Regions from separate parts of the Homo sapiens genome. Here region 2 is linked to region 1. The links come from fine-mapping of genetic effects on gene expression. Tissue or cell type: subcutaneous fat. Region 1 holds a variant in brackets; the other region holds the start of a gene. All regions are shown on one strand. Distances are between the middles of the regions.

Region 1 (4,346 bases):
ACTCCCGGCAGATCTCCCCGCAGAACTTCTTTCTCATCTCCTGCCTCAGCACACACCCTCTCGTCTCCTCAGATCAAGGCTTTTCCCAGTGTGCCCTTGGGTACCTGCTTCACCATCCCCTAGCATACTCCCGGGCACCACCCTGCCCAGACCTGCCAAAAGAGAATCTCCGCATTTTTAACACAAATCTGTGGATGCTGCACACTAAATGTCGAGAGGCACTGTTCCGCTGAGCAGCTCCTCTTGTCCCAGCCTCGCTCCTGCCTCAGCTGGGCAATTTCTTCTTTTTTTGCCCCTGTACTCTCCAGGGTGTAACTAACTGCGACTGGATGTCTCCTCTGCTGGGCTGTGAGCTCCATACAGGCAGTGACCACGTCTTCTTCCTCTGACCTGTAAATCCCTGAGCCTGCTACAGAGAAGGGACCAATGAACGGGACCCCCACCTGAGCCCCAGTGCCCCCGGCCAGGAGGAGGTCAGGCTGATCTAGTGACAAGCCACAGCTTGTCTGGAAACCTAAGACACTGCTCCCAGGGTCTCTGCAAGTTACATCTGTCCCTCCACCCCACCCTACCTCACCGTCTGCACAGTAAGGAGACATGTTGGGACTATGTGTAATGGAGGGCCTACGGGGTGTTAACAGTGACATTTAACAACAAGCTCTCCAGAAAATGTCTGCATGCGTAGACTCAATAAGTTTATTATAAATTTTACTGACACAAAGGATGTATAGCACATAATTTACAAATACTAATGAAATATCCAATATTCTTTATTGTAAATTCCATATAGCCAGATGACTGTCCCAGAAATCAACCCATTCAATGAGTTTCGCCTAACTCTTTATCTGTAGCCAACCTACGGTTGCAATGACAAATTACTGTAGTTCCAGCTTAATGCTGCTTGATATTTTCATTTATGTTAACAAGTAAGTTGAAAGTGAAACAACAAAGACATGTCAGAACTTCACTCCTTCACTGGTGGTCGGAGTGACTTCTTTGCTGAATAGGTTAATAGTTTCTGAATACTGGAAAAATCTTTGTTTTCTGCTATTCACCATGGAGCAACTATAAACATGACACCCTTTAAAATGTAATCTGCATTAGTAGTATTTTTTCCCATCACTTTCTCAGGTCTAGACAATCAACAAAACAATAAACCAGGTCTTAATGTGCAGCACCTGTTGACTCCCCTGGTCTAGCCACCCTCGCCATGGCCAATCTGTGATGTGACTGAGCATCGAAGTGCGAGGAGATGCTCAGCAGTGCACGGTCACGTGGCAGTTCCACCCCGCAGACACAACAGACAAGCGCAGGGAAAGGCAGTAAAATGAATACGAAGTGGTGAGTTTTCAGTATATTACCTTTGTAAACATAACTTGTTTAATGTTAAATTTATACCGCTTCTTTTTTTTTTTTTTTTTAATTTTTGAGAGAGAGGATCTTGCTCTGTAGCCCAGGCTGGAGTGCAGTGGTGTGATCTCGGCTCACTGTGGCCTTGACCTCCTAGGCTCAAGTGATCCTCCCACCTCAGCCTCCTGAGTAGCTGGGACTACAGGCATGTACCACCATGCCTGGCTAATTTTTGTATTTTTTTGTAGAGATGGGGGTCTCACCATGTTGCCCAGGCTGGTCTCGAACTCCTGGCCTCAAGCAATCCTCCTGCCTCGGCCTCCCAAAGTGCTGGTGCGGCAGGCCAGGCATCACTAACACAGGCCTCCATAACAACTGTTTCAGTACTGACTGAGTGGTTAAGTCAAATATTAAAAGCTGACAGAACCAGTGCCCTTATACAAAGGCTGGGATGTAACAAAAGCCCACCAAGAGTTTTGCCTAGGCCTTTCCTGGGCCTTAAAGCATGACAAAATAATGAAGGAATTCTTAACAGGCCTCGTTTAAGGTTAAACAAGTTTTATTGGGGGTCTGAAGAAACTCCCCAGGCCTCCACAAATAAGTTTTATTGGAGGGCTGAAGGAACTCCCCAAACCTCCGTGACTTCGCAGGGGACAAGATAAGG[AGGG/G]TAATTACCCCTGGCACCTGGACCCATCTAGATTAAGTAAATTTACTGAGGCCCCAGAGGAAGGTCTTCAGGACTCGAATCTTAGTTATAGATTAAAAGAAGTTAATCACTTATGTCTTTAGACGAATGCACACTTACACATAGACATATAGTTTAGAAGATATATAAGCTCTGGAAAACTTTGTAATTTTGAGTTGGTCTGGCAATAATTTCCAGGCCTTCTCCCTGTGACCGGTTACAGAAATAAAAACTCCCCTCTCTCCCAGTTCATCTGCATCTCGTTACTGGGCCTTGAGAATAAGCAGCTGACCCTCGGTTTGGTCCAGGAACACTGGGATTACAGGCGCGAGTAACTGTGCCCGGCCAGTTTGATGCTTAATAACAGCTATGTTGAGCAAAGGGCTTACAAACATTTTCCTTTATTGCGCAATCGATTCTCATGAGCTGTCTGTGGGCCAGTTCCAGGAGAGTCACCCTAAAGAACTGAATGGGACCCTCCATTACTGCCATTACCCAGAGGGCCAGTCCCCTCCCCAGCCCTCCAGAGCCTAGCTTGTGAGCTGCCAGAGCTGGGATCCTGAGAGTCTAACAGACCCTGCTGTGTGATCCAGCCAGCTTGTTTCCACTCTGTGGGCCTCAGTTTCCTCAACTTTGAGGGGGAAAATGGTGCCTCCTAACTCGTGACGTGTGGAGAGAATGAAACGCCCACTTGCCCTTCCCCCACACACTTGGCCTACATACTGTAGTTCGTTCCCATCACTGCCCCCACACCTTACTTGAGACACACCATGTGCTTGTTTTGGGGACATGCCTGCACACCCCTCACCCTCCCAAACCACATCACACACAACAACATGTCACCCCATATACCACTCAGAGACAAGCTCACCTGTAGACAGCTGCCTCCCACACATCACCTCAGACACTCCACAGATAGATTTTCCTCCAGCTCTACCTCACACACAGCCTACCTGCATACCCAAACCACACCCCACAAAGGCTCCCATGCGCATATGTACCCAAAATTCCTTCGTGTGCTTTGTACCCACATGTACTGTGCCAAATACCTTTTCCCTCCCCCCAGGCATTTCACAGAAATGGATGCCTCACCCTGCCCACCACAACCCACTGACACTCCAGACGTCCCCCTGCCTTCCCCTGTCAGCACAAGCATGCGCACCACACACATGTGCCCATCATTTATTTATACTTCTCTCCAAACTCACACCTCACAGCACACACTCATGCCACCCCCACGCACAGGCATTCCCATATGGCCCTCACACACTCAAGGCATTCCCATATGGCCGCACATTCCAGGACAGGAGACCCCAGCCAGCCCTCTGAGCCCATGCCCTGGATTAAGGAGAGTGAGGGGCATCCTGGTAGCACGAGGTGGGAAAGCTAGGGTGCACTTCCTCGTGGTGACAGCTTGCTTCCCTGGAGGTCAGGCCCTGGCTTGAGGTGCAGGGAGGACTTCAGAGAGCTGAGAAGGGATAGGACAGAACTGTTGGCTAAACACCTCTGTGTCCTCCAGATCCAGCCTCAGGCGGCTCCAGCAGCCAGCTCCTTCCTGCTCTCCCCAGCACCCCCAACCCAAACAAGGACACCCATCTGCTTCTGGAAGCTCCTCCCATGCCCTGTGAGAGCGGGACTCTTGGGGGCTTAAGGGCCTTGCCCAGGCTGCAGTGAACGCTGAGCCCAGGCTCCCCTGTCACAGGGAGGGATCAGAAGTCACAGGGCCCTGAGCGAAGGGGCTAGTGGGAAGGTGAGCAGGGAGGCCAGGGCTCCTGCTTCCAACTCCACAGGTGCTGTCAGGACTCCAAGGGGGTGCTCCTTTCCTATGCCTTGCCAGACTGAGGCGGTGGCAGAGGCACACACTGTCATTGGCTGTCCCAGCCCTCAGCTCCACCTGAAGGTTGGACTCTATCCTGTCCCCCAGTCATCATCCTGTACTCTTGCCCTGTCCTTGCCCCCACCCCCAGCCCATCAGCAGCAGAGCTGAGTCCTGGGGTGAGGGGCCTCTGTCTGTCTGCTCCCATCACCCAGCATCTGTGCGGCCAGGGTAAGGGCCTGCCTCCTGGACCACCCCATCATCTGAGCAAGGAGGAGCCAGTGTGCAGCAGATGCTGGGTGGGCTCTGGGGCCCATGATGGGCAGATGCCAGCACATCTGTCTAGGTGGTCCCAGGACACTCTAAGAGCAGCCTCAGGCCAGACCGGGTCCTGATGGGCACAGGGAAGCCATCTCAGGGGTACACCCCTTCTTACAGCGCCACCCAGCGATAATCCAGAGTAATGGCTGAGGCCTTAGAGAGCAATGGTGAGGT
Region 2 (4,000 bases), 24 kb before region 1:
GGGGCCAGGCTTCCAGGGAGGCAGGATTCTATGCTTCAGGGCTGAGTCTGCGGCCCAGGAAAGGAATTGGAGGGGTGGCGGTGGAGGGGAGATAGTAGTTGGACCTGGGCTGAGGCAAGTGCCAAATCACTCCTTGCAGGATGCCAGGGCCCTAGGCACTTGCTAGAACAGGATCATTTCCTAGAGACAGTTCTACCTTCCTGGGCCACCTTTCCCAGGAACAGGCTTAAGCCATTCCGTTTGAGGCATATTTTCTCTAAGACCCCTGCACACTCTCTACAAGTGGCTTTAGTCCCTGGCTCCCTGGGAGAAGCTTTCTAGAACCATGTCTTGGCCTGGCCCAACCTCCAGTTTGCCAGATCCTAACCACGTCATAATCTCCACAGCCGTAAGTGCTGCCCCTCCCACCCTCCTCGGTCCATGGCCACCACCCTGCCATCTGGACCCCCGCACACAGGTACTTCCACAGCACCGGAGTCCACTCAGCCCACAAGCACCGCCCAGGCACCTCTGCCGCGTGGCTAGAAAAGGTTGATGACGCTCCATGGGGCTGCACTGTCTTCTAGAAGGTCCTCAGCCCACATGTGCCAAGAAAGGCCAGGATCCTCCAGAAACTACCTGTGCCCCAGCCTGGACGTCTGTCTGGCGCAGCAGCTCTTCTCAGTCAGCACAGCCCCAGTCCCTGGTTCCATGATGGAAACAGCTCCCTAATCCATGTGAGACTGAAGTGTGACTACATGTGTCTGCAGGAGAGCCTGTGGGTGACCTGTATGTGCGCACGTGTGAGGGTGTTGCTGGTGGTTGTGGGGAGAGACACAAAATAACCTGGAAACCCCTGAATCCCCCACAGGAGCTGAGATTAGAGGTAACAATTCTCAAGAGAAACCCTGAGTTCCCAGGCCACGTGCCTGTTTTCAGAAGGATCTGCTTTTAAGAAGCCTTGGGCGGTTTCAGCTGGTTTCCATTTGGGACGCTGTCTGGACAGACTCAGAGAAGAGCCCTGTCAGAACTATTTTCTATCAGTGACTGGTATGAGGCTCTAACAGAGAGCAAGCTGTGTTACAAGGCGGGACCTGAGGATCTCATCCTGCCGTCCGCTAGCACGTGCACCTGGGTCGACAATAACACAGTGGGCCTTAGGAGTCCAGCACCCATTTTCCACAGAGACAGCCCCGTAGCCCATGGCAACCAAGGAGCCAATGGGTGGCCAAGAATCTGGCGCTGCCATGGCGATGAGCTCCCTTCCCTGGTAATAGAATGGAGTAGAGTGGATAGGGAAAGACCTGCACCTGTGAGGGGCCCCCCAGAGACCACCTCCCCGCCCCCTTCCCAGGCAAATGGGAAAGCCCAGCCATCCTTGAGATAGACCACAGTGCCTGGCAGCAGAGGGTGGGGGGCTTCCCTGAGTGTGCCTGGATTCTTGAGTGCCTTTCTGCATGTGAGGGCAGTTCTATGTACTGTGAGCTGGTGTGTGTCTAGGTATAGACCTGCTAGCAAGTAGATTATTCAGTGTCTGAAAGAGACTGAGTAGCACTTGTGAGTGAGAAGCAGGTGTCAGTTATTCTCCAGATACAGGAGGTGGACGTGCACAGATATGCAGGCATGTGTCTTTGTGAGCCCAAGAATTCTTGTGTGTAGAATATACGGGTGCATGTCCACATGACCACTGGTGTGCTCTTGGTTCAGAATAACTGTCTTCACGGATCCATGCTTTGAGAGTGTGAACCGACCAGCAGGAGCGTCTTTGGCCCAAGGCAGGGACGTCCTGTGGGTGCATGCGTGCAGATGTATGAGCGTGTGCGCGCACCCTGCACAGGCGTGTGACTGGGGTTCTGGGCCTAGGAGGGGGCTCAGAGCAGTGTGGACTCCTTCCCCAGGCGGCCACATGGTGCTGCCTGACCCAACAAGGCCCACACAGGCCCCTTCCAGCAACCCTGGCAGATAAGGGGGTGGAGCGGGGCAGGCGGGAGCAGTCCGCAGGGGCCCTCAAAGTTGAGGGAGGAAGGACCAGCGACTCCAACCCGCGCCCCAGTGCTGGGATAGGTGGGGAGGGCAGCGGTGCCCTGCGCCCCGGCCGCGTATCCCCAGCCAGCTCACGTCCCGAGTCGGGAGTGGTGGGCGCCCCGGCCCGGCGCCCGCGTACCTGTAGGGAATCCAGTCGGAATGCGGCTTGGAAGTCATGTCTCTCGGGGGCGGGGCGGTGGCTGCGGCTCTGGAGGCCGGGGCCCGGAGGGGCCGGCGCGGGGGCCCTGCTCAGCTCCCGGGCCGCCCCGGGCCGCATCCTCCCGGGCCGGGGCGCTGGGCCCCGCCGAGGCCCGCGCTGCACGCCAGGGCCCCGGCTGCTGGCTCTGCGAGCGGCTGCCTGCGCGGCGCGGCGAGGCGAGATGGGCGAAGCTCCGGGAGTGCGCGGGTCGTGCGCGCGCGTGGAGGCGGGGAGGCCGACCGCACCGTCCCGCGCCCCTCTGGCGCCAAGGCGGGAGTACTGCGTGGCAGCGGCGGCCTGCCCCTTCTCCCTCGCCCCGCCCCGCCCCGCCCCGCAGAGACCCCACCCCCCGGCCGGCTCAGGGCCTGCGGAGCGCCCTTGCCCCCTCCCCCGAAATCGTCGCGATCCACGCTCCATGCGCGTGACCGCGCCGGCTCCCACCTTCGGCTAACGGCGGCGCTGCAGCCGGGCCAGTCCCCAGGCCTCCCAGCCTCAGTTTCGTCTTCTGTGAAACGGGGATCATTCGAACACCTCCCTGTGTACCTGCCCTACCTATCTGCGCTATGGGATGGGAAACCGATGCGCGGATTTGGCGGGGCAGGGACCGGGCCGGAGGCGCGGATGGAGAAGGAATCCAGTCGTGCAGGAAGAGGCGGGGGAACCTCCGGGCCGAAGCGTGGAGGTTGGCCTTCCCTCACCCCCACCTCCGAGTTCCCACACCCCCGCCTGGGGAACCCTCTGTCTTTGGGTTAAGGAGGTGTTTCCTCAGCAGTGGCTCCCTCCCATCTAAGCTATAGCGTCAAGGGAAGGGGAACATTTACGGTCTATTGCATTCCCAGCCCTTGCAAATTTCTAGTATGTAATCTCCACAGTAGCCTTGAGAGACAAACATCATATCCCTATAACCCAGAGAATAGGAATGCTGAGATGCCCAAGGCCGTAAAGCTAGGAAGTGGTGGAGCTGAAACTGTTCTGTGATCTGTGTCCTCCAAAGCCCTTCCTAAGGGGCGCAGTTGACCGGAGGCAAAAACCCCTACAAAGATCATCTGAAAGTCTCTGCGCGCTGAGGAGGTCCTGGCTGTGACTAGGACCAGCTTGAATGCAAGGCATGGCACACTGAGAAGGTGCGGGACCCACAGCAGGGCGGGCGGAAGCAAGGAGCAGCAGGCTGAGGGGTCACCAAGGCCTGCGTGTGGAGCAGGTGATCCGGGAGAGGTCTGCGGAGGGGCACGGTCCCCACACGCCCCGTGGGCGTCCTCGTGTGCATCCTGGATTCTGCCGCGCCAACCGCGCCAGAAGAGTGTTGTGCGGGGATCTTCTGATGATAAATAGGCGGTCAGGACTGCCCCGCAGAGAGTGTGAGAACAGCCAAGGGGGCTGAGGGAGGGGGCTCATCCTGCTGCCCTGGGGCTACAGCCAGACCCCCACCCCAGGGCTCTCCCAGCCCTTCAGCCTTGCCTTCTCTTGCCCATTAATTATAAAACACAATAACCCACAATATTTGGATTATTTGCTGGGCGTCAGGAGCTGTGTTAGGTGCTACGTACATATTATAATTCGTTTAATCCTCATAGCCACCCTAGAAGGTAGGCACCATTAGCATACCCATTTCACAGCAGAGGAACTGAGTCACAGAGAAGGCAAGGATCTTGCCCAAAGTCACACAGCTGGTCAATGATGAAGCTAGCATTCACACACAAAAGGTCTGGGTCTACAGCACTTACCCTCAGCCTCCTTTTGGCCAATCACAGTTCATGTAGTGCACACACACACACCCCTACACACATGCACACACAC

Alleles and levels. Alleles are on the strand shown, and positions count from the first base shown. SD is a standard deviation of normalised expression in the study named.
For the expression in subcutaneous fat of the gene that starts at base 2,481 in region 2, allele G in region 1 goes with a lower level than allele AGGG (small effect, 0.19 SD a copy in GTEx).

The links. PIP is the estimated chance that this variant, and not a neighbour inherited with it, causes the effect.
Region 2: it holds the start of TUB, and the variant in region 1 is fine-mapped to the expression of TUB in subcutaneous fat (GTEx, PIP 0.92).

What each region holds. Positions count from the first base shown.
Region 1 is chr11:8,055,296-8,059,641 of GRCh38, reverse strand. It overlaps a transcript of TUB not described here. Among named protein-coding and RNA genes, the nearest start is that of TUB-AS1, 2.6 kb to the left of the region's middle. The variant AGGG/G (reference allele first, on the strand shown) is at 2,015.
Region 2 is chr11:8,079,692-8,083,691 of GRCh38, reverse strand. It overlaps TUB (TUB bipartite transcription factor), which reads right to left and starts at 2,481. Exons shown (of 12, transcript NM_177972.3): 1 at 2,144-2,481. The coding sequence starts at 2,181. RefSeq lists an enhancer at 1-530.